Homo sapiens: one gene and its partners. The protein of the gene in region 2 interacts with the protein of the main gene of each other region in a pairwise test. Each region holds a gene or a part of one and is shown on either strand. Other genes may lie near its edges.

What was found.
Region 1: the proteins of RSPH1 (region 2) and CMAS interact in a two-hybrid assay, tested with the Homo sapiens proteins (one large-scale study listed by BioGRID and IntAct).
Region 3: the proteins of RSPH1 (region 2) and KDM6A interact in a two-hybrid assay, tested with the Homo sapiens proteins (one large-scale study listed by BioGRID and IntAct).
Region 4: the proteins of RSPH1 (region 2) and UAP1L1 interact in a two-hybrid assay, tested with the Homo sapiens proteins (one large-scale study listed by BioGRID and IntAct).
Region 5: the proteins of RSPH1 (region 2) and ZBTB44 interact in a two-hybrid assay, tested with the Homo sapiens proteins (one large-scale study listed by BioGRID and IntAct).
Region 6: the proteins of RSPH1 (region 2) and CORO1C interact in a two-hybrid assay, tested with the Homo sapiens proteins (one large-scale study listed by BioGRID and IntAct).
Region 7: the proteins of RSPH1 (region 2) and EDIL3 interact in a two-hybrid assay, tested with the Homo sapiens proteins (one large-scale study listed by BioGRID and IntAct).

The regions. Positions count from the first base shown.
Region 1 is NC_000012.12:22,049,218-22,052,717, reverse strand, and holds part of CMAS (N-acylneuraminate cytidylyltransferase), read right to left. Parts: intron 1-3,500. UniProt on the Homo sapiens protein: Catalyzes the activation of N-acetylneuraminic acid (NeuNAc) to cytidine 5'-monophosphate N-acetylneuraminic acid (CMP-NeuNAc), a substrate required for the addition of sialic acid.
Region 2 is NC_000021.9:42,472,225-42,475,724, reverse strand, and holds the end of RSPH1 (radial spoke head 1 homolog), read left to right. Parts: intron 1-2,854; coding exon 2,855-2,907; 3' UTR 2,908-3,239; downstream 3,240-3,500.
Region 3 is NC_000023.11:44,876,188-44,879,687, forward strand, and holds part of KDM6A (lysine-specific demethylase 6A), read left to right. Parts: intron 1-3,500. UniProt on the Homo sapiens protein: Histone demethylase that specifically demethylates 'Lys-27' of histone H3, thereby playing a central role in histone code. Demethylates trimethylated and dimethylated but not monomethylated H3 'Lys-27'.
Region 4 is NC_000009.12:137,082,778-137,085,038, reverse strand, and holds the end of UAP1L1 (UDP-N-acetylhexosamine pyrophosphorylase-like protein 1), read right to left. Parts: 3' UTR 501-2,261; downstream 1-500.
Region 5 is NC_000011.10:130,227,918-130,231,417, reverse strand, and holds part of ZBTB44 (zinc finger and BTB domain-containing protein 44), read left to right. Parts: 3' UTR 1-3,500. UniProt on the Homo sapiens protein: May be involved in transcriptional regulation.
Region 6 is NC_000012.12:108,648,064-108,651,518, reverse strand, and holds part of CORO1C (coronin-1C), read left to right. Parts: intron 1-2,498; coding exon 2,499-2,556; intron 2,557-2,668; coding exon 2,669-2,914; intron 2,915-3,455. UniProt on the Homo sapiens protein: Plays a role in directed cell migration by regulating the activation and subcellular location of RAC1. Increases the presence of activated RAC1 at the leading edge of migrating cells.
Region 7 is NC_000005.10:83,944,381-83,947,880, forward strand, and holds part of EDIL3 (EGF-like repeat and discoidin I-like domain-containing protein 3 isoform 1 precursor), read right to left. Parts: intron 1-3,500. UniProt on the Homo sapiens protein: Promotes adhesion of endothelial cells through interaction with the alpha-v/beta-3 integrin receptor. Inhibits formation of vascular-like structures. May be involved in regulation of vascular morphogenesis of remodeling in embryonic development.

The DNA of each region.
Region 1 (3,500 bases), on a different chromosome or scaffold from region 2:
GGGAAAAAAATGTTCTCTTGGGAAATGTCATAGTCAAAGGTATATAACAAAGTAAAGTAGCAATGAAAACCTAGTGCATTTTTAAAATAGAGATGACGAGAGGATAAGATGAAATTAGAATACAATAAAAAATAAACAGGGAAGGCAAAAGACATGGTAATTTGGCATCTAATTTACATTAATTGAAATAAATTGCTGAAGCCATTTACTTCATTATCCTGATTTTTACTGCAATGAAAATTCAATACCAGAGGGTTCAGTGGTCTTTAAGTAATGTTTAAAAAGCAAGAAAAAAAACAGAATTTTGGAGGAGGTTTGCTTTTCTTCCTTCCTTCCTTCTTTCGTTCATTCATCCTTAATTTATGAACCATTTACTAAGTGCTTATTCTGTCCCAGGCACGATTCTGGACACTAGGGATGTAATAACATATAGAGCATAGTTTATTTTCTTGAGAAAGTCTTGGCCTACTGATGGAGACTGAGGCCAATATAGCGGTGTAATTCTCTTTAAACCATTAGGAAAAGAGAAGCGAGGGATCAATTAAGTAACTACGCTCTTTTCAGTGCTTTACTTTTTACAAAGTACTTTCACAGTGCCTGCTACATATCAGGTGCTCAATATAGATCTGTTGAATGAATGAAACAGTAAGGGATTAAAAGGATGGTTTCTGAAGGAAGAGGTTCAATTCTGGCTCCACCACATGCTAGCTATATGACCATGGGAAAAATCCATATCTCCCTATGCCTCAATTTTCAGTAAAATGGAGGTAAGTAATAATAGTGGGTACCTCATATGGTTTAGAGGATTAAATATAAACCATTTACTACAGAATAAACATTTAATGTTAGCTATTCAAAATACCAAAATAGGAATGGTAATAAAGTAACATCTACTCTGTCTCATTTAATCCTCACACTCAATCTTCAGAAGGTAGACTGAAGTTCTGCTTCCAGACCTTCAAAGGTCCAAATGTCTAATTTGTATGTTATGTTAAGCAATTACACTGTGAAAAAAATATGAAAACAGTATCCCATATGTACACTTAAAATACTATGATCATAACCTATGAAAGAGACTGAGTAGATAATTTTCCTTTGGTTTAGGGACATAAGATGGGGCTATGCAAAAGAGAAAATGAGCAAGTGAACAAACAGGCCAGTCAAGCAGAGTGAATGTCAAAGTCTAATGCCAATGGCTTTAGCCTCAAATGAAGTCACACCACATCTAACAGGACCAACAGGAATATCAACCATGGTGCCTGTGATAACTATTTTAAATCAGAAGCTGCCATTTTAGGGATAATAACAGCATAGGCCTTTCATTAATCAAAAGTCTATACCCTAAGCATAAAACTAAAACATGTTTACTTTTCCCAAGTATGTTAGGCAACACTTACAAATCAATTTGTTCTGAGGTTTACTTACACAGCACTGAACCACTGTTGAAAATTAAGCTCTTACAAAATCAACTCTGGCAATAACTTTGTACTAAAGGAAAAAAAATTATCTCAGCATTTTTCTTAACTACTAACTAGCCTAGTTAGTATGCAAAGTTAGCAACCTTGAAAAGTACTGTTAGCTTTGATTCTGAGCAGGCCAGAGAAATCTGCCTCAATTAAGTCAAATCGTGGTTTTGAACAAAATAATCTCAAAGGTATCTTCGAGCCCTGAAAAACACAAATCAGACAGCTGCAATTTTCTTCAGCTCTCTCCTAAGGTAAACATTTTTTGAAGAAACAAAAGAGAGGGTAGGAGGCAGGAAGGGTGCTCCAAAGTCCTCTTACAGCTTCATAGTAAGTCAATTGAATATAAGTCAACACATTTTAATGATCTAGTATATAAAGCATACCATGATGAATAAGAGGGTACTTGCTCATAAGAAGCTTAGCTTTTCACCTAGTATGGCAGGAGTCTCCCCAGGCCAAATTCTGCCCACTCCTCAGCCTGTTTCTGTAACATTTTATTGGAATACAGCCACACTCTTTCATTTATGTATTGTCATGGCCACCTTCACAACATACACAACAGTAGAGCTGAGTGATTGCAACAAAGACGATCTGGCTTACAAAACCTAAAATATTTACTATCTGGCCCTTTACAGAAAAAGTCTGCTGGCCACTGAAACTGAAAAAGAGAATAAAGACATCTTTCCACTAACTCTTCAAAGTCAAAGAATGTTAGCACCAGAAATAATTTTAAAGATCATTACAACTTTCCCGTTTTACAAGCAATGGGAGAGTTTCCCATTTTACAAGCATGGAAGATAGTAAAAACCTTCTAAACAAGAGGAAAATGTCAATAACAGATTACATACTATGTGCCAGGCACTATTCTAAGGGCTGCACGTACATTATCTCACTTAATTCCCTCCACAAGCCTGTGAGGCACACACTTCAGTACATTTTGTAGATGAAGAGACTGAGGCACAGAGAGGTTAAGCGATTTACCCAAGTTTGCACAGTTAACACATGGTGATGCTGGAATTCAAATCCACAGTTTGATTTCAGAGTCTGTGATCTTATCTCCCTGCATAGGGCATGCACTAAATGAAGGTACAAACGACGTAGCTATGTATGGGAAAACAAAGGCACAATTACTTTTCACTGAGGGGATCAGTAAAGGCTTCATGGAGGAAGAAGTGCTGGTCCCTTCTATTACCTTTTGACCTAATCTCTCCAGATGCCTGGAAAGGATGACAAATAGCACATAGCCACAAAACTTGAACAGAGTAAATTCACATTGTTACATGATACTGTTAAGTTAGAAATACATTCATTTTGCTAGTTTAGAAAAAAAATTTTTTTTTTTTTTTTGAGACAGAGTCTTGCTCTGTTGCCCAGGCTAGAGTGCAGTGGTCCAGTCTCGGCTCACTGCAACCTCCACCTCCCGGGTTCAGGTGATTCCCCTGCCTCAGCCTCCTGAGTAGCTGGGATTACAGGCATGCACCACCACAACTGGCTAATTTTTGTATTTTTGGTAGAGATGGGGTTTCGCCATGTTGGCCAGGCTGGTCTTCAACTCCTGGCCTCCGCCTGCCTTCGGCCTCCTAAAGTGCTGGGATTACAAGTGTGAGCCCAGCCAATTTTATTTCTTCTAATCGCCACCATTGATATAGTGACAGATACCACAGGTGGCTTGAAGAAGTATAAAACATTATCCCTGTGGTCAATGAGTTTACACTCTAGTCTAGAAGTATTAAATAAAACTACTTGGTACAGAAAAGGTTGATACTAGAGTCTTTTTTTAAAAGAAGTTTTGTACAAATGCTAAAATGTGGAAATGGGAAAATCATTGGTCAATATATATACATATTTTCCAATCATTTCATAGCAAAATCCCCAATGCCTGCTGTAATGGTTGGTTGTTGGGTTCTGACCAACAGAATCTATTCCCCCTCACTTTTGGTAATTGTACTCCAATTTTCCTCTTGATGAACCTGTCATGTTTTTCAGCGGGGGCTCCATCGCTGGTTTCAAGAGTGGAAGATGAAGCTATACTGT
Region 2 (3,500 bases):
GGCAGGCCCTCCTGCAAGCCTGGCTGCAGTGGGAGAGGCCTGGGTGTGCAGCGGTGCCCATGCGCGTTGTCACAGGAGGACCGACCCCAGGCTGGAGAGCCCTGTCAGACATGCAGAGCCTGGCTTTCTTCTGTTGCATGATTTTTTTTTTTTTTTTGAGATGGAGTCTTGCTATGTCACCCAGGCTGGAGTACAGTGGTGCGATCTTGGCTCACTGCAACCTCCACCTCACTGGTTCAAGCAATTCCCCTGCCTCAGCATCCCAAGTAGCTGGGATTACAGGTGCATGCCACCATGCCCGGCTAATTTTTTTGTATTTTTAGTAGAGGTGGGTTTCACCGTGTTGGACAGACTGGTCTCAAACTCCTGACCTCACACAGGAGGCCCGCCTCGGCCTCCCAAAGTGCTGGGATTTGCATGATTTTTAGCAGGGCTGACTAACAGGAGTATGGTTTCAGACTAGTGGTGTCGGGAACTAGCTCTTTTTCAATGGGTTTGGATGTAAGATTAATCTAGAAACTTCTGCCTCTGCCAGCTCATAGGGCAGGGATTTGACCTCAGTTCTGACTGACTGAAGCCTCAGGCTCCTGGAATCTTTAAAAATCTTTCCCCAAGTGCTTGTGGGCACTTGCAGAAAGTCTGGAGAGAGGACTCGCTTCCCTTAACGCACTTTTCACATCTGACTGAAAGAGGGTGTCGTGCTTGTGAGGGAAAGGGCCATCTGGGAACAGCCTGGGCACGGCGGCCTCAGGCACGGGGTCTGCAGTCCCATTCCACTTAGTTTGTCTCTGTTGTAAATTAAGAATATACTTCCCATTCCTTTGAAAATAATACCTGAAATAATGAAATCACATAAAGCAGTTTTCTCTTAGATGCTTGAAGCACACATAGACTTTCGTGATCGGTAATTCCCCTGAGCGCTGGCATAGACTTTCGTGATCGGTAATTCCCCTGAGCGCTGTAGCAATGCACCCAGTGACGCAGTGCTGAGGTGGGACGTGGGGTCAGGTGGAAACCTGGCTTTACAAGTGAGCATCGTCTCTGCTTCTCTGACTTGCACAGGGAGGGTGGATAGAGTGAGCCCTGGTAGGTAGGGAGTCCACAGGATTCTGTTAGGACTGAGTGGCTAGAGTATGCACAGTGTTACAGCAGCATCTAGCTGTGCCCACAGATGTCAGTCCTTAGTCACTGTGGAGCACAGCTGGAGGGGGAGACACTGGGTTTGATAGGCAGTGTGGGAGTGAGGGGCTGGGCTCTCGCCCTCTAGCACCTAATGGGAAGCTGGAATAAAGGAATCAGTGAGTTCCCTGCAGTGACAGGGACGTGTTACCATGTACCCAGGAGAGGTGATGACTCACCTGGGGCAGGACCAGGAAACTCCGGGTTAGCTGGGAGGGAGGTGGCAAGGAATGGGTGAAACCAGGAAGGAAATTCCAGGCAGAGAGCAGAGTCTGACAGCAGAAGAGTGTGGGGGTGGGGAGGTGGCCCCTTTCCCTTGGAACCAGATGGCCTTTGAACTTGATCCTGAGCCCAGTAGGCGGGACCTCTGGGAGCTGTGGGGATTGCCTGTATCAGGCTTGCTCTCTGAGCTTCTCTGGGGCAATGAGGATGGGTGCCCTGGAGCCAGGCAAGGCAGGAGGCCCCAGAAACTTGGTGGGGGAGATAACGGAGGGGATGGAGCAGGAGGAATCCTGAAAACCGGACTGGGAGAGATGGGGCCGAGTGGACGATGCCCAGTACCAGCGGGCGTCTGAGACTGTGGGTTCATGCACCAGCCTTGGACAGAGGGAACACCCCCTTAACTCAGTGGTTTTGGGGCTCCAGGGGACATTTGGCAATGTCTGGAGACTTGGGAGGCTGGTGAGGGAGGTGCTGCTGGCATCTTCCTGGGTGGAGGCCGGGGACGGTGCTGAATACCCTGCAGGGCACAGAACAGCCCCCAGCAAAGGGTCACCCAGGCCACAGTGTCAGGAGGGCCCTAAGTGAAAAGGGAGTAATACAAAATAGGCTTAGTCGGCAGAACATTTATCAAAATAATGCAAGTTCAGCATGTATTCATCATGAATCCCACATTACATTGGAGATTTACCCTGCTAATTTCTTCTTTAATATACCCAACAGTGAAAGTTATAGAGTTTAATTAATAATAAAAAATAGCTCTACCTTTCACAAAACATTTAAATATAGCGTCTTATAAGAATGTGGCAAATTTCTGCTTTTTTTTTTTTTTTTTTTAAGATGGAATCTTGCTCTGTTGCTCAGGCTGAAGTGCAATGGCGTGACCTCGGCTCACTGAAACCTCTGCCACGGGGTTCAAGCGATTCTCTTGCCTCAGCCTCCCAAGTAACTGGGTTGACAGGCATGTACCACCATGCCCAGCTAATTTTTGTATTTTTAGTTGAGACGGGGTTTCACCATGTTGGCCGGGCTGGTCTCGAACTCCTGACCTCAAGTGATCCGCCTGCCTTGGCCTCCCAAAGTGCTGGGATTACAGGCATGAGCCACTGCGCCCGGCCTGCTTTTCTTTTAAATTAATAGCCAAGCAATTACATGTTTTAGCCACAAAGCTGGCTGTTTTGGACAGGTGTGCAGGCATAAGAGAATTACTGATGTTACATGGATAGTCTTGTCTTAGCATTTACTTTGAGTACGTATTTTGCTTATTTTATGTCGGGTACCAAAAGAAAAAACTGTTGAAGTGCATATGAGATAAAATTTAACATTCAATTTTTGACTGATGAATGCTTAATAGTTACAATAATTTTTTTCGGCAAAAGATCTGTTAGTGAATAAAGGCTTTAAAAATAGAACAAAGTAAATATGAGATATACTCATGTTTCTCTTTTCTTTTCAGGAAACATTAATTCTGAAGAAGAAGAAACTAGACAGTCAGACCTCCAGGACTAAGATGAAGTGAGCCGAGAGGAGATCGTATCATAAGAATGCTTCTGTCGTTAGCCGGGTGCAGTGCTGTGTGTATCTAGTTCCAGCTACTTGAGAGGCTGAGGCAGGAGGATTGCTTGAGTCCAGAAAGTGGCAGTTGCAGTGAGTGGAGATCGCGCCACTGCTCTCCAGCCTGGGTGGCAGAGCGAGACCCTGTCTCAAAAAATAAACAAAAACAAAATGCTTCTGTCAGTTAACAATCTTTATTAGAGGGTTTTTAGTCTTTCTTTCTCAGCTGTATGTTAAGTTGATTGACAAATGCAAATAAACGTCTTTATTATCCTTTCTTTCTGAAATAGCCTCTGCTTCAAGTTCTGTAAACTGAAGGTTACCACGTGGTTTTGCCATGGTTTTTCAGTGGTGTCTTCTCCTTGGATAGAGAAAACTGTAAATCTGCGGGAGACGGTGAATGGAAGTTTGGCTTCTGGCTGAGCTGGGAGAGTAGTTCTGTACCCAAACCCCTCTCTCAGATTTCCCACAAGGGAGGTAGGAAGCACTTAGAACATGAGGATTGCTGTGTGCAATGCTCCTCGAATGCAGTGTGATGGGTACACGGC
Region 3 (3,500 bases), on a different chromosome or scaffold from region 2:
GCCTTAACATTAAAATAAAACCTTCTGTAATATGTGCTTGCAACCGCATATAGTTCTTGGTTGCATCTTTGTGAGCCTGAACATACCAGTGGGGTGTGTAATGTAAAGCCTGACATTATATAACTTCGCACCCTCTGTTTGAATTGGGTTCTGAATGAAGTGAATGAGCTGGAGTCCTGCTGTAGGAAGTCTTGAATTATTTAGTTTCATCCTTCTTTTAACAGTCCTCGAAGCAGTATTTTTTTGTTTTTTATTTTTATTTTTTGTGGAATGTTGAGCTATGTTGGTTTCAGAATTCTTATTCCCTGAAAGTCTTAAGAGTTGGCTTTCCTTTACTGGGCAGGTTTAGGCTACTTACCTGAGGGCAGATAATGGAATTGAATAACTCCCAGAATTCCCTTTTTAGCTTTGATTTTTGTCCTGCCATGCCCCCCCACCCCCAACCCCCCGGCCCCAATTTAGTCTGCACTTTGTATAACGTTTTCCTTTCTGGCAGAAATTTAGCTATTACTACTTGTTTTCAAAAATTCTTATTCCTATGTATATTATTGGATTTTCTTTCAAGTTTTTAAAATTCACATTTGTATGTTAAAAAAAACTCTTGACCTAAAAGCTTTAGAAAGTTGAAAGCATTAAATATGTCTCTTACTTGTCCCTTAACATATGTACGTATACATATATACACACGTGTACATATACATATATACACACGTATACATATACGTATACACACATATACATATACGCATATACACACGTATACGTATATACGCACGTATATGAATACGTATATACACGTATACGCATACGTATATACACACGTATACGTGTATACATATATACATGTATATACATACGTATGTATATGCGTATACACATATATGTATATATATGCATATGCGTATGTATACGTATGTACATATCTATATGTGTATTCCTTTTCCAGGTGTGCAGTTTATTCAAACCACTGATTTCTCATCGTCTCCCGAATGTTTTTGTCAGATTCAGTTATATTAGAGTCATTGAAAGAATTTTTTGTTTGTAGGATGGCCATTTGATATACAATGCCTGGGGTTTTGGATTAAAAAAATAAGGTAGTTAATACAATGTATTATTTTTTGGTAATGTCTTTAAGGTTGTAAACAGCTAGAGCCTGCGTAATTAGAGTTCTTGTGATATAGGGTGATCTTGAACAGTGCTCTTGAATGCTGACCCTTAATCTTCTGGTAATGTAATAATTCAAGATTCTTATTTTTAAAATTTCAGTGGAGTTATCGAAAACTAAGCAAAATATTTTAACAGAAATTAACTTGTGACTTTTTTAGTACATTTTTGAAAACCTTTTGGGTTTTTTTTTTTTTAAGTAGGGTAAGGATTTGAGTTAAAGTAGAATATATACGAATATATACCATAAATGTAGTAAGTTTAAATATAGTAGTACTACCAAGTATAGTTATAGTAATAATGCTAGGGGACTGGGGAATCTTATCTGCGTCAGGGAACTATTGCTAAAATACACAGTTTTGAACAAAGTATCTTATTTTTAAGTTTTTCTTAAATACTCTTATTGGAAATTTTTTTGGTAATTCTATTAGTAGAAAGATTATACAAAATACTTAGAAGTTATAGATTGTATATCACTTAAAAATGTATGTGCTTTTTTCCGTAGGACATATTAGCATTAAAACAGTTGGTGTTTTAAATTTTTTTGATAATAGAAGTAGTTTAAGATCCATTGAAACATATTTTCTTAAATTTGGTTTGCTGGCGTGTTTGGTAGGGGAAATTATTAGGTCAGTTCTAGAGGTGGCTTTTTTAAATTGTAATATTTGGATGTTGATTAAAAACATTCTCATTTATGTGTGTTTTTTGTTTGCTGGCACTTAAAGGCATACAGGTTGAGTATCCTTTATCCAAAATGCTTGGAACCAGATGTGTTTTGGATTTGGGATTTTTTTGGGTTTCAGAATATTTGCAGAATACATACCAGTTGAGCATCCCTAATCTGAAAATCTGAATTCCAAAATGCTCCAATGAGCATTTCCTTTGAGTGTCATGTTGGTACCCAAAAAGTTTTAGATTTTGGATTTTCAGATTAGGGATGCTCAACCTGTAAATTCATTTCCAGTGCTAAAGATGGCTAGTGTTTTGGTTAGAAAAGTCATGAGAGCCTGTCTCAAAAAACAAAAACAAACAAAAAAAGAAAGTAGCCATGGAAATAATGTCATGCTTTGTGTTTTAAAGAGTTTTCTAGTTTGGAAGATTGTCTTCTGAACACTTGCAGTCTTAATTTTTTACGTGGACAAAGTCTTATATACTTGGTATTTCCTAAAGTTTTGATTTGTGCCTGGTAATAAAGATATACTAAGATTATAGAACATATTTGCATATTTGGTCACAAATTAGAACTGCAGCAATACATAAACAGGCACTTTTAAAGTTCTGGTTTTCTTTTTCAGTAAATAGTTCTTTCTGTCGAATCAATTACAAATTGAAATAACTAGAGAGCATTTGACTGCCACCTCTAGATACTTTTTGTTTTTTTTTTTAATTTGAGACAGTCTCACACTATCCCCCAGGCTGGAGTGCAGTAGAGTGATCTCGGCTCACTGCAACCTCGGTCTTCCAGGTTCAAGTGATTCTTATGCCTCAGCCTCTTGCGTAGCTGGGATTACAGGTGCCTGCCACCACACCCGGCTAATTTTTGTGTTTTTATTAGAGGTGGGGTTTCACCGTGTTGGCCAGACTGGTCTCAAACTCCTGACCTCACGTGATCAGCCCACCATGGCCTCCTAAAGTGCTGGCTTTGCAGGTGTGAGCCGCCGCACCTGGCCAATATCTTAAGCTGTTAAGAAAAACTGCCTGAGAGATGAATTTTTGTGACTTAGGTGAAGTGATAGGTCATGCACTTTAAACCAAAATGAAAGTTCATTGCTTGGCTAGCTGCAGAGTAAGTCTTTTTCTGACTTAAATTATGTAACATTTAGTTTTTGTTTACATAGTACCAATATTCTGCATCTTTGAAAGGATTTCTGTTAAGTTTATTTTTACTTTGAAATTCATTGTGATGCGTTGAACTCTTTGAAATTGATGTTAATGACTGCTAACACTGCATTATTAATAATATTTTTGAAATGTGTTATCTAGAGAGCTAATTTATGTTAAGAAAACACTACCAGCTTGTCTAAGAATTGAAATGGTGGTTAGGCTGTTTAGGACTCACATGTATTATTTGTAGATTAGTTAATTAATAAAGTTTATTTAATGAATGCATAATTGACAGTCTTAAGTACTCATATTGAAACTTCACATATAATTTTATCAGTTTTCCACATTGGTTTGTAAATTATCGTGACAGTAAATTAAAACAGTATATTAATGTACACTATGTGCAAGCCTTCTATGTAGATAGTATGAAGATAGCATAGATATTTCTTGCCCGTGTTGAACTTAAATTCTTTAAGAGGGGTGAGATAAGTTTAAGGGTGACTAACACAGGA
Region 4 (2,261 bases), on a different chromosome or scaffold from region 2:
CCCACCCCCCCACCACATGCCTGTGACCCACTGAGGCTTGCATACTCTGCATTGCAATTATGTGTTATTCTTGATTAAATTCATTTATTCTGGAGAGCCTGAGTTTCTCTTTAGGTTGACACCACTCACTCTTGTCAGTCCCTGGAGTACCCCAAGCATCCTCACGTGGTTAGCAGGGAAACCTTGGCATCTCAAGGATGCAGGTGCAGGAGAGCGAGTCTCCAGGCTGTCAGAGCTGAGCATGCAGAAGCCTGCCCTGGAGAGCGCCCCGAGGTTCCTGACCGCAGGTTGTCTCAGGCCCTCCTGAGACCCTGGTGAAGAGTGGGATGGGACCGCGGGGGGATTCCTTGGCACCCCAAGTAGTCTTGGCCTTCATGTGTGAACTCCTGTCCCTAAGGGGGCCCCCAGTGAGCTCCAGCCCTGGGACACAGCTGTGAACACCTGATCCTTGTTCCCAACACCCGTGCACTGCCCAAAAACTGCACTTGCCAGAGTAGCAGTCAATTACGGCACCTTGTGTTTATTGGAAATATTCCACCTACAGAACATTAAGATGCCAGCAACCGGCCCGGCGCGGTGGCTCACACCTATAATCCCAGCACTTTGGGAGGCCGAGGTGGGTGGATCACGAGGTCAGGAGATCGAGACCATCCTGGCTAACACGGTCAAACCCCATCTCTACTAAAAATACAAAGAATTAGCCAGGCGTGGTAGTGGGTGCCTGTAGTCCCAGCTACTAGGGAGGCTGAGGCTGGCCTGGAGGTTGCAGTGAGCCAAGGTCACGCCACTTCACTCCAGCCTGGGCAACAAGAGTGAAACTCCGTCTAAAACAAACAAAAAAAAAGACTTCACCCAACTAACTGTGCTTGTGTAGAAAGAGGTTGCATCCCTGTTCCAGTCATGGCCATGAGGAACAGCTATGAGAAGGGCCCTAAGGCACAGCATGGTTTGCAGTAAGAAGGGCAGAGCCAGGGAGAGAGAAGTAAACATCATCTTCTGGGCTTTGGTTTCAAAAATCACAAGGTGTGGGCCTGAGCCTGCTGCCTGCCCAGGTCTGGGCGCCTCCACTCAGCCACTGTCCTCCCAGTGCCTCTAAATCTGGAAGGCTGCATCTGAACCTGCCCTTCCAGACAACACCCCTCCCCTGGGAAACCAATGGGGATGAGTAGTGGCCCTCCACTGGGGACTGTGGGTTTCGAGGTGGGGGCAGAGGATGAGTTGGCAGCAGTGGCATATCATAGCTCTCTTCATGTCAGCAGGGAGAGGGAGGTGCCACTGCCTCCCCTGAGATGAGAAAGCAGGCGAGAATCACCAGGGGAAGAACCCTGGGGCAGCTGGCTTGTCCCAGCCATGCCTGAGTGCACCAAATATGGAGGCTGCGTCCTCACTCGGAGAGCCAGGCAGCCTGAGCACCAAGATCCGTCAGAAGCAGCAGGCAGCTGGGGTGAGGGGTGGTGCCTCTGACTCATGAAATCCCGGATTAGTCAGCAACCATCACAGAGGCCGCCGGCATTGATCCCACTGGTTCTTGGGGAAGCACAGAAAACTCAGCAGCCTAAACCGACCATGGAAGAGGCTGAGAGGCAGAGGCCTTGGGGATAGATGGGGAGAAGGCAGGAGTACCGGCCGCAGGCTCAGGTGTCCAGGCCAAGCTTCTCAGAGCCACCTGGATCATGGACATCAGGCTCTTTCTGTGGCCTTGCTGGGCATCCAGGGTGTGTGGGCTGGGATGCCCCAGCCTTGCCCCCATTACTGGTTCGTCTGCTAAGGAAGAGGGGGCAGCCCTCGAGTGGGTGGAATTGTCCCCCTCATTCTGGTTCTGCATCTGTAGGCTGCAGAAGCACATCCTGTGTAGCTTATGCAGCTTCTAGTGCTCGGTGGGGTGTGGTGGATCCACAAGGCGGGCTCCCAAAGGGACATGCCCTCCTGTTCTCCCCAGATGACACCACACCTCCCTTGGGCCCCAACCCGAAGCCTCCTCTCAGCCCCATTCTCCCAGGTCCCAAGTCCCTCTGCCTCTTGACTAGACCCCACAGCCAGGAATGGAGCCACAGAGCCCCCAGCAGGCTGTCGCCACTTGTGTCCAGAGGCGACAGGAGAGGCCCTGCCCTCGTGGAGTCTACCAGCATGTTTCATTCTGTGTTCTGCAGGCTGGAAGCATGGGGCAGGCTGCTTTCCCACCCAGAGCTCAGGCTGGGCTGTAGCCCCCAGCTCCAGGACGCCGGGGCTGGCAGGTCTGGGGGGAGTCGGGACTTCCAGGA
Region 5 (3,500 bases), on a different chromosome or scaffold from region 2:
TACTGTGAAAATGCATATCTGGTTAGTTGTCTGCTGCCCAGATCTTATCAATACCAGTAACTAACCAGTATTTAACATAAAATGATACAAATAAAGGCCTTTTTCTATTTCAGTGAGGGTACATTTTTCTTGATATATATGTACTTTAAGGATATTGGATCTGTTTATGGATCTGTTTTAGGAAACAGATTTGCAAGGGATAATTGTATATATAGTAGTATTTAGGTTTATTTCAAATTCATCTTAGGGATGCCTAGATGCATAATTTTTACCAGGACATATTGAAAATATTGCAAAGAGATAGCCAGTTATATTATCCCATTCATTAGAAATTACCAGTGTAACTAAACATAAATATTCCAGTTTAGAGTGCTTAAACGTAGCTATCTTTCTTAAGGCCAGGAGGGTAACTTTGTGGTATCTAAAGGGCTTAAATTTCAGAATGCAGAATAAATTGCCTTTTTAAAACCAAGCATTTTGTACAAGCTTTTATTTTCAGTTTTTTAACTACCAAATAGGTGTGATGTACTTTAGAAGTAAACAAAGATGTTCACCCATGATAATGGATGTTAAAGCTCCTGCAGTTGTTCTTTTCGTGTTTAAAGGGTATATTCTAATAGTGGAAGCATCAAACATGTCAGTGATTTCATCTCATTCAGAAATAAAGAGATTAATATTGGTCTTTATTTTTTGGCATTTTAAGTTTTATATAAATGGATGCAGATGGAGATTATCACCCACAAATATATTTAAATGGATTTTTCTTAATTTGAATTTCAAGTAATCTTTTTATTTCAAGTAATTAGTTACGCATTTAGTTACATTGCCAGTTTTTTTTTTTTATCAATTTCAGTAAGACAAAATATACTAAAATGTTTAAATAGCCTCATTCAATCTTACATTTTGACATTTCAGCAATCATTCTGGCTTACAGTAATTAGATCCCCTGTTACGACACATGCCCTTTGTTCTTAATAACTAGCAAAAAAAAAAAAAAAAAAAAACTTTCATCTTGTTAAAATACTTTGCCAAATGAAATAGACTAGTCAATACATCTGATGTCCATAATTATTGGTAACTCAGTTACCTTCTAACTAATAGGCTGGTTCAGGAGACTCTCCCAGTTTATAAATGGTTCTCTTGGGAGCCTTTGGAAGCTGTATTAAATCTTTCAGTCTTTTATTTCTAATTTTTTCTCTTAATCTAAATAGAGGCCAGTTATCTATTTTATCAGCTTTTATTCTTGAAGATTCTCAGATTATGTTTTAGTCCCTTTTAGCTTTAATAGTCCTTGAAAAATACATTACTGTATAATGTGGCAATTCTGTAACAGAGACTTATTACTTGAATGAATAATCCTAAAATTTTAATATTTTAGCTGAAGTTTGAGATTTGTGGAATGAACAAAAGAATTAGAAACTTTCATATGTTACTTTGTTTCAGTCATCTGCAAAGTATGAAGCTGTAATTCTGAAATACACATCCAAGTGAATGAGAATTAAAAATTTTCTAAATATTAATACTAACTGGGAAAAAAAAACTAGTGTGAAGTTTACAGTTAGAAGAAACAGACCCAAAGTTGCCAGAAGGTAATAAATAAATGTAGTTTTCACTGTAAGTAAGTTATTGACGTAAGATGCTTTATTTGTAATATATTTAGATTTTGAAAGTTATTGAGAGATGAATGTATAAAAGCTAAATTTTCTTTTCTGAAGCAGTGAAACAAAATTGGGGTAACAAGGAAGCTCTGTTGTGGCAAACATGTCTATGAGGAATATTAAAACTAAGCATACTCCCACAGGCTTTAAACTCAAACTATGAACATTTAAATTAAGTTGTTCCTTATTTTGCCTATACCCATTTTTATCTTTCATTGTCGTTTTTGCTTGACAGTATGGTGACAGAGTATTTTTATTTGGAAAGTCCTCAGCAAGATGAATTAGCCAAAAGCAATAATGGTTCAGATTAAACAATAAAGTGGAATTGATTCAATCCCAGGCTCAACTAAGAACAGTCGCTCTCTGGATGTTTCATTTTAGACGATAGATAAGTTGAGATGTTGTAATATTTATGGGGGGTTAAGCCTGTGTCAGTTATGGGATGAAGACTTGTAGTACCAGTACCATCAGTGGTCATACTTTTTTTTAACTTTTTACTAAACTAATACAGTTAGACATTTCCACTCTATCGTGATTATATTTTTATGATGGGAAAATAAAAACACTTCCATGTTTTTATAAATAGTCTCTGCAAAGATTTCAGATGTTATTGGTATCTCGGTTTGGCAGTATCTGAAAAATTGAGATTGTCTTTGAAATGTTTGTGCTACTTTTACTTAAGTAAACCCCCACTGTGCAAGACCCAGGCCGGCTTCAGCTAATACCAAGGTTTCTGTGTGCATAATAGTTTACAGAGAACTTAAGAGTAAGGACTGCGGATTAAAAACAAAACTTTTTTTAACTTTAAAATTTTTAGTTTTTGTTCAAAGTACCTGGTTTATAAAGTCAAATTCTTTTATTAGTTCCTTTCTCGTTTAAATTGACTGATGTTGCTGATGAAGCTTAAAGTCCCAGGCACGGTTGTGGCGATATACTGATAAAATTGGTGCCTAGTGGTGGGAGGAGCTCCAGTGTCAGGACTTTTATTAAAAGGCCCTTGTTTTCCCAAATGCCAATCTAGCCACATTTAGATTTCATTATTCAATAAAACAGATGAAAAATCATCCCATAAATGAATGTTGAGGTTACCAAAGTACATCACCTGCTGAGGAAGGATAAATCTTCCTGCTTTAAGGGAGCCCTGTCATCTCTCCTCTTAATGCACGTTTCCCTTGGTATTAGTGGAAGCTGTGTTCAAGATGGGAAGCCTTTCCTGCAGTTCTTAGAAACACCTGCTTTCTAAGGAGAGCCTTTTCTAGGATTAGCTTATGTGTGTTTTCTCTAGGCGATTTTTTATTTCAGTTACCAATTTAATTTTCAAGTTGACAGATGCTGTGTAAAGTCTCTCATAATGAGAGTAGTCCATTAAATTGTTGAAAGTTGCACTGCTTTTCATCTTTCAGGTACCTGAAATGAGTGACATCAGGTATTTGGAAGGAGTAAGATCATAAACTGTATTCATTTTCTTCCTTGTACAAAGTGATGACTTCTAATGCTTATATCTCAAGGTATTTTTTAAAAAAGCAACGGTCCCTAATAGAGTAAAATTTGGTTTTGGTCCAAGTTCCCAATAATGTATTTAATGTTTCTGTTGTTTACTGGTGCCTCCCGTTGCATCAGGTAGAGATTGCCTGCCTCTTTGTAGGGCAGCCTTGTGGCACCTTATGTCCAACTTGGAGGATAGTATATGGCTTCTTTGTGCCTCTACTATCTTTTCAAAAGCCATTTTATAAAAATCCTAGGTAGCCTATTTTAATATTTAAATATATATATTTGTGAAAGAACTTTTAGAACAGACCTTTTCTTTTTACTTTAAAATTCCTGTATTTCCATTTTTAAGAG
Region 6 (3,455 bases), on a different chromosome or scaffold from region 2:
AACCAAAGGTCCTATAATGGGGCGGTAGGTTAGCTTGATTTAGGAAGTTCAGCTATGATATAATTTCTACCTCTCTGTACTACTTCTGATTTTTAGAAAATTCATATTCTAAATGCTAGCAGGCTTCCTAAGGGACAGGCTTTTTTCTCATGCTAGTCAACAAATATATCCTCTGAGACTCAGTGACCACTGGCCATTTCAAACAACAGAATAATTAGCACTACATCATCACATATAAGGTCGTACCAAACATTTGTGTAACACTGTGTTTATGTGGACTTTTAAAACGCTTGCTGTTCTGGTCTCACAATTAAAGAATTGATACTTACGTCTTCCAAATAAAAGGAAGAGAATTTTTATAAGCCCCTTTTTTATATTAATCTCTACTAAAAATAAAAAATTTGCTATGTGTGGTCGTGGGTGCCTGTAATCCCAGCTAATTGGGAGGCAGAGTCAGGAGAATCACTTGAACCCAGGAGGCGGAGTGAGCCGAGATGGTGCCACTGCACTCCAGCCTGGGCAACACAGCGAGACTCCGTCTCAAACAAACAAAAACAAACAAACCAAAACTCTCTATGTGATTTTTTTTTTTTAGTTGGAATAATGAAGGAAAGCTGTTAAAGATAATTGAAAATTGTGGTTTAAACCAAACTAATCAAAATATGGTTCAAAATAGACTGAATTCAAATTTATGATTACATCCAATATTTTGAAACACATTTGTTGTCATCTAAAAGTTCGACAGACTATAAACACAGTTGTTCAGAATGTCTCCGATTTATGAAGTGTTTCTTGAGCATTTATTGTATGCCAGGACTGTGCTAAATATGCTACTTGCTACCTCTTTCTTTTCATAACAATCATATGTGGTAGGTGTAACTTTTATCCCCATTTTATGGATGAAGAACTTAAGGCTTGGTGAGGTTGTCACACTCTCGTGGGTTTTGGTAGTAGAGCTGGAAGTCAAAGCCAAGTCAGTCTTTTTATTGGCTATACTAACCACAGAATTTTCATTAAATCAGTCTTTAAAAATGTTTTTGGGCCAGGAGTGGTGGTTCACCCTGTAATCCCAACACTTTGGGAGGCCAAGGTGGGAGGATCACTTGAGCCTGGGAGTTCAAGAGCAGTATGGACAATCTAGTGAGACCCTGTCTCTACAAAACATTAAAAAAATTAGCCAGGTGTGGTAGTACGTACCTGTGGTCCCAGTTATTCCAGAGGCTGAGGATTTGGCTTGAGCCCAGGAGGTCAAGACCTCAATGAGCTTGTGCCACTGCACTCCAGCCTGGGCGATGGAGCAAGACCCAGTCCCAAAAAAAAAAAAAAAAAAAAAAAAAAGGTTTTTGGTTTATCTGGGACTCTTTTAGTTTTTGGTTGAAATAGTAAAGAGGCACATTTGACACAACCTTCCTTTTAAAGAGGATGATGATTTTATAAACCTTTACCACCCTGAGCTCTACTCAGCTTTTGTTCCCCTGATGCGTTAGAGCAGTGTATCTGCCAGGTTGTCTTCAATGGACTCCTGCCCAGTTTCAGATGCCAAAGGCTGCAGGTTTCCAGGAGAAATGGTTTTGCATATTTGATGTGGCTGTGTCTTCTCTGACTTAAACTCTTGGAATTCAGAAAACATTTCCCCAGCAGCATTGACGCCCACATTCAACTCCCCCCTTGCACACCAGCCGTTTGATCTGGTGATCTGGCCAGGATGCTCACTAAGGCTACCTCTCTTGCCAGGAGCTTTAGAGACTTTTTTTGTTGTTTCCCGTCTTGACTGAAAAAGAAAATTGGCTTGACCTTATCAGGGTCATCATAAGAGAAGTCATTTCTGGTCTGTTTAGTTCTCTTGTAGGATACAAATAAAAATGTTATACCTTTCTTCCCCATTACAGAGCTCTTTGCTCCCTTCTTCCAGTATTACAGTGCAAGTGGCTTTACATTCTCTTTCCACATTTTGGATAGTTTCACATTTTTCTTGAGTGTCATGTACGATGTGGTTTGCTAGGATGAGAAAATCATAATCCTAGGATTGTTTTCTTTTGCTTTCTAAAAGTCATATTTATACTTATATGTTCAACCACCTCAAGCTGGCAGAAGACCTTGTACCCGCGTTGTAGATACAATCTAACAGATGTGTGTTCTCTCCTGTAGGTTGACATGGTAATTTTTTCATAAGTGAGTCAGTTTCAGTGTTGCTATTATTTCCACCACAGTTGGTCTGTCCCCCAGATAATTGGCATTTGTCATCATCATACGTAGACCTCTACTCATGGTTCTTGTCTCCAGTCTGCCAGTTCCTAGCATAGTGACTCTCAGCTTCCGTTCTCTCATCTGTCAACCGGGAACACTAAATTCTGCCTATTCCCGGGGTGGATCAGATGTGGGGATGGGTAAAGAAGCACTTGACATTTCAGACAGCATTGTAGAAAACTAATTATTCATCCTGTTAGTCAGCCTCATATTTCACTTAATGCAACTTTGCCTTTATTTCCCCTCTGAAGATTCTTCAAACTTCATGAGAGAAAGTGTGAACCTATTATTATGACTGTTCCCAGGAAGGTGAGTGCTGAGTTTTCTAGACAATCCATATTTTAAACAAATGTAAAAATAAAATTCAAAAATCCCAGGCCTTTCTTCTTCCTTACCCACGGGTGCCAAATGTCTCTTGTAGTCTGACCTTTTCCAAGATGACCTGTATCCTGACACAGCGGGGCCAGAGGCCGCGCTGGAGGCAGAAGAGTGGTTCGAAGGCAAGAATGCAGACCCAATCCTCATCTCCTTGAAGCACGGGTACATTCCAGGCAAAAACAGGGATCTCAAGGTGGTCAAGAAGAACATTCTGGATAGCAAGCCCACTGCAAACAAGAAGTGCGACCTGATCAGCATCCCCAAGAAAACCACAGACACGGCCAGTGTGGTGAGGACCAGTGGAGTGCAGGGGTGCTTGGCTGGTTCAGGCTTTATCCTCTAGAAAGCCCTTGTGGTCCAGGGCGTCGGCGAGTACTGTCCCAGCTGGGTGCTCAGGGGTTTTCAGTAAATGAAAAAGTGGGAGAAGGTCCTCGGTCACGTGATGGTGGTGGTTTGTGGCAACACTTGCCTCCTTTAACGGAGTTAAAGCTCCTTTAGCCCCATTAAAGGAGCCAAGTGTGGCCACAGACCACCATGATTGGGATAGGTATCAGTTTCCTCCTATCTCTCAGTGTGAACAGGAGCCTCTTGGGTTTTTCCTGTCTTTTGCCAAACTAGTTAAACCCTTCTCTGATTTGGGTAGAAATAAAATATCATGGGAGTGTGGGGTCATAGGCACCAGGGAGAGGAGGTCCCTGGAAGGAGGGAGTGGCACGTGTTCAGATGTAGCTGAGTGGCTACGACAGAAGGATCTGGCGGTGTGGGGCTGGCAACAAGGGGGATTTAGGCAAGAGCCCTTTGGGTGGGGAATTGGGAATCAAGCCTGCCTT
Region 7 (3,500 bases), on a different chromosome or scaffold from region 2:
TCTTTTGTAAAAATGCTTTTTTTTTTTTTTTTTTGGAGCTTTACTATTACTATGGCCACTTGCTCTTCCCCAAAAGACTTTCATAATAACTTGGACAAATGTCTGCTTCAGAAAACAAAACAAATTTAAAACACTGGGTCCCTGATAGGAATGGCATTAAATTATAAATTATGTTGGGGTAAACTGAGGTATTTATATTATTTAGTCTTTATCTGAAGATTTTATCCTTTTTTTCTTATAGATTCTGAACATTTCTTATTAAAGTGATTTCTAACTATTTTATATCTACATTTTTAAAAATTTAGATTTAGTTTAGATTTTTAGATTTAGTTTAAATTTTTAGAGTAAAAATCTCTTCAACGCTTTCTGTTTTTGCTTTATGAAGCATCTTATAATTAGAAGATAATTTTCTTTCTTGTTTGACATCAAATTTCTTTCTTGTTTGGCATCAAAACATAACTATGTGGCCAGAGACACCTGAAGATAAAATCCTTAAAGTAGAAAACAAAAAACAACCAAACTCCATCATCACATGACAGGATACTTAACCCACATCTTTCAGCATTCTGAAATTAAAGGGAATGTTTTAAAAGCCTTCTAGGCTAGATTGGTTCAGTCTTATACGGCCACAAATGTTCTCCTGGAAAGAAAAAAATCATATTCTCCTCAAAAGCATTAGGCAGTACGGCACTGATTAATAGGAGCAATAGACAAGACTGAAAAGTCTCTCTGCTGGTTCTGCTGGCATATCTAAATTCATATTCATTTAGCAGGCATTTTATGCTTAGTAATGCCCTGTCTTGCACAAAGGAATAATTCATTCTGGACTGAAATGTGCTACTACTATGTTACAATGTCTCTGTTAGCAAAACTCACAGGTACAGGACATATCATAAACACTCACCAAAAATCTTGAGAGACTGTTGCTACTGCAACAGCAGAAAATAAGCCCTGGTTTACTGACATCCTCTCTGACATATGATGTTGGATTCAAATATTTCACTGAGATTGTGGTATTACAATTTAATACGGAATCTAAAATCCAATTTTGTAGCCCTGCTAGTGAACTTAATGTATATCTCTGGGATAATAGAGTTTAAATTCATTAACTTTCATTGCAAGATTTATAACAGCCCGAAATATAGTTTTATACCACTTCTTGGGAAGGAAATACAGAAAGAAACAATTTTCTCTTAAGTGTCTGCTCTCCAGCACAGGTTTTGATGCGAACTATCAACCCAGAAAGTATTAGTTGAATTATTAATTATACTTATTTCTTTATAATGAAGAATACATACAGAGAAACTATATCAGCTCTGGAACTGAAAACAACTATGAAATTTCTGATTTAATATGTGAAAGTCATGGATATTTGCATGTTCACTTAAAAAAAGTGAAGTTTCACGAAACAGGATGATTAATAAAACAATAACGTTCACAGAAAAACAGCCGAAATCTATACTAGAATCACAGAATTTACAGCCTCAAAGTACTGAAAATATATTTTTATTTTCAGAGGCCTCTCAGTAATGACACGTACAGAACACAAAGCACCCACTTGCTAATTCCAGGATGATATTTTGTACTTGTTGTGTAAACATGTGGCACATGTGCTGTTTTCTTATCTCAAGCACTAGGAAGCCCCTGCTTAAGAATGCCACCTAAATATTTCACCTTGCAAAGGAATGCAAACACAGTATTTTTAGTTAACTTCATAAAATCTCTAAGATTTCTAGAAAGTGCTTTCACAGGCACATTTTAGAGACATAAGCATCTGAACTAAAACTGAAGTCTGAAAAGACTGATAGAGAACATTAAATCTCTATATAGGAGTGAAAATATTTTACATGAGAAAGACACAGTTCAATTTAGAATTTTTTAGAAAAACTATGCACAAGTTCCAGTTCAGGAAGGAGGCTAATTGGCTGATCACAAATTTGCTGATATATTCAAACATGATATTGCTTAGAGGTCTCTCAGGCTTTTTCTAACATATGGGGCCTTGATCAAAAAACACTCAAGGTACTTTGCAGAAGCTTCCATAATTACAACCTAAGAGAAGATAAGAGAAAGAAAAATACAACTCCCTCAATGTAGCTATCTTGATTTTCTTTTTCCTAAGGTTAACTCTCTTGTGATGCTGGTTGAAAATACAAATCAGATTCTTCAGAGGATTCAAATCTCAGCACGGAGAGAATATCAGATAAAATAAAACAATAAAATCTTGTTTCTAGCAGCATTAATACATTTTTTATAAGACGAGCTACCATTCTTTGTTAGGACTACGGTCTATTCAGGCCGGTATAGACATCAATAGGAGGCCTCCAGGGATCATGGAACAAAGTAACATTATCCTCCACGATGTAGTCAGAGAGGTGGGGCATATTTCAGTTTCTTTTAGCAGTCATCGAATAGGACTCTAAATATCAAAGAATCCCTTGGGGACTTCTTGCACATATGATTTCTTTAGAAAATTATCTAGTTTGTAAAAATGTGCTTCTTTTCATTTGTCCTAAACTTAACTGATTAAAAGTTTTAAAGAGATTACCATTGTTCTAACTTTTTGGAATTGCTGTTCACATCATTCAAATAGCGAGTGGTTCTAAGCATTTTTAGATAGATTCCCTATGGCTAAACATCAGCATTTTACATCAGTATTAAACACCAGTATTTTATTAAGATTTCAAGTGACCATCACTTCATCCCTCTGGGTTTTTGTTGCCCCCTTATAGATTTCATTATTTTTCTTCTGCTATTTGGAGACTATAGTCGAACCGCATCTGGGATTTCAGATATTGTGGAAATATAAAGGTTGAGTGAGACTTTCTAAAGTTTTTTCTATTGATTGTATTTGCTTTGTTTATGGTATCAAGCATACCACTGGCCTTACTGACTGTATCTGTACACTGACCTGCTGTTCTTAAGGGATAGAGGACAAAGGTAAAGATCCATTTTCCTAGGGCAGCATGTATGTGTCTGTGTCTGTGTCTGTGTGTGTGTGTGTGTGTGTGTGTGTGTGTGTGTGCAGAGGTGCTGGGCTGAAAGCTCAGAATTCTTTATTTAACATACATAATTTCAATCCTTTGAGCTTTCATCCAGAGCACTAATGGAGAAGTTAAATAAGAACAGTCTTTGGTAGCTCTGATCCTCAGAAACCCTGTTTTTATCTAATTCTACCCATATAATGAAAGAATCTGAGATCTGGAAGAGAACTCAGAGATCTGCTATCAATAACTTTTCCCTCTAATATTTCTAACATGGAACTTTCAGCCTATTCATGGCATGCCTCAATACAATAGGACAGGTATGTATTTAGACAGTTTGAAAGTCTATCTTTTTAGAAGACTAAAATGTGTATCTCTCACTTCAGTCTATTGAATCTAGTGCTTAATTCTCAATGAATATAGAACAAACTTAGCTCATCAAAAGAACTTTTGACATACTTAACAATAATTGACACAAACCTCTCAAAAACTCAACTTCAGCGCTCTAGGCTAAAC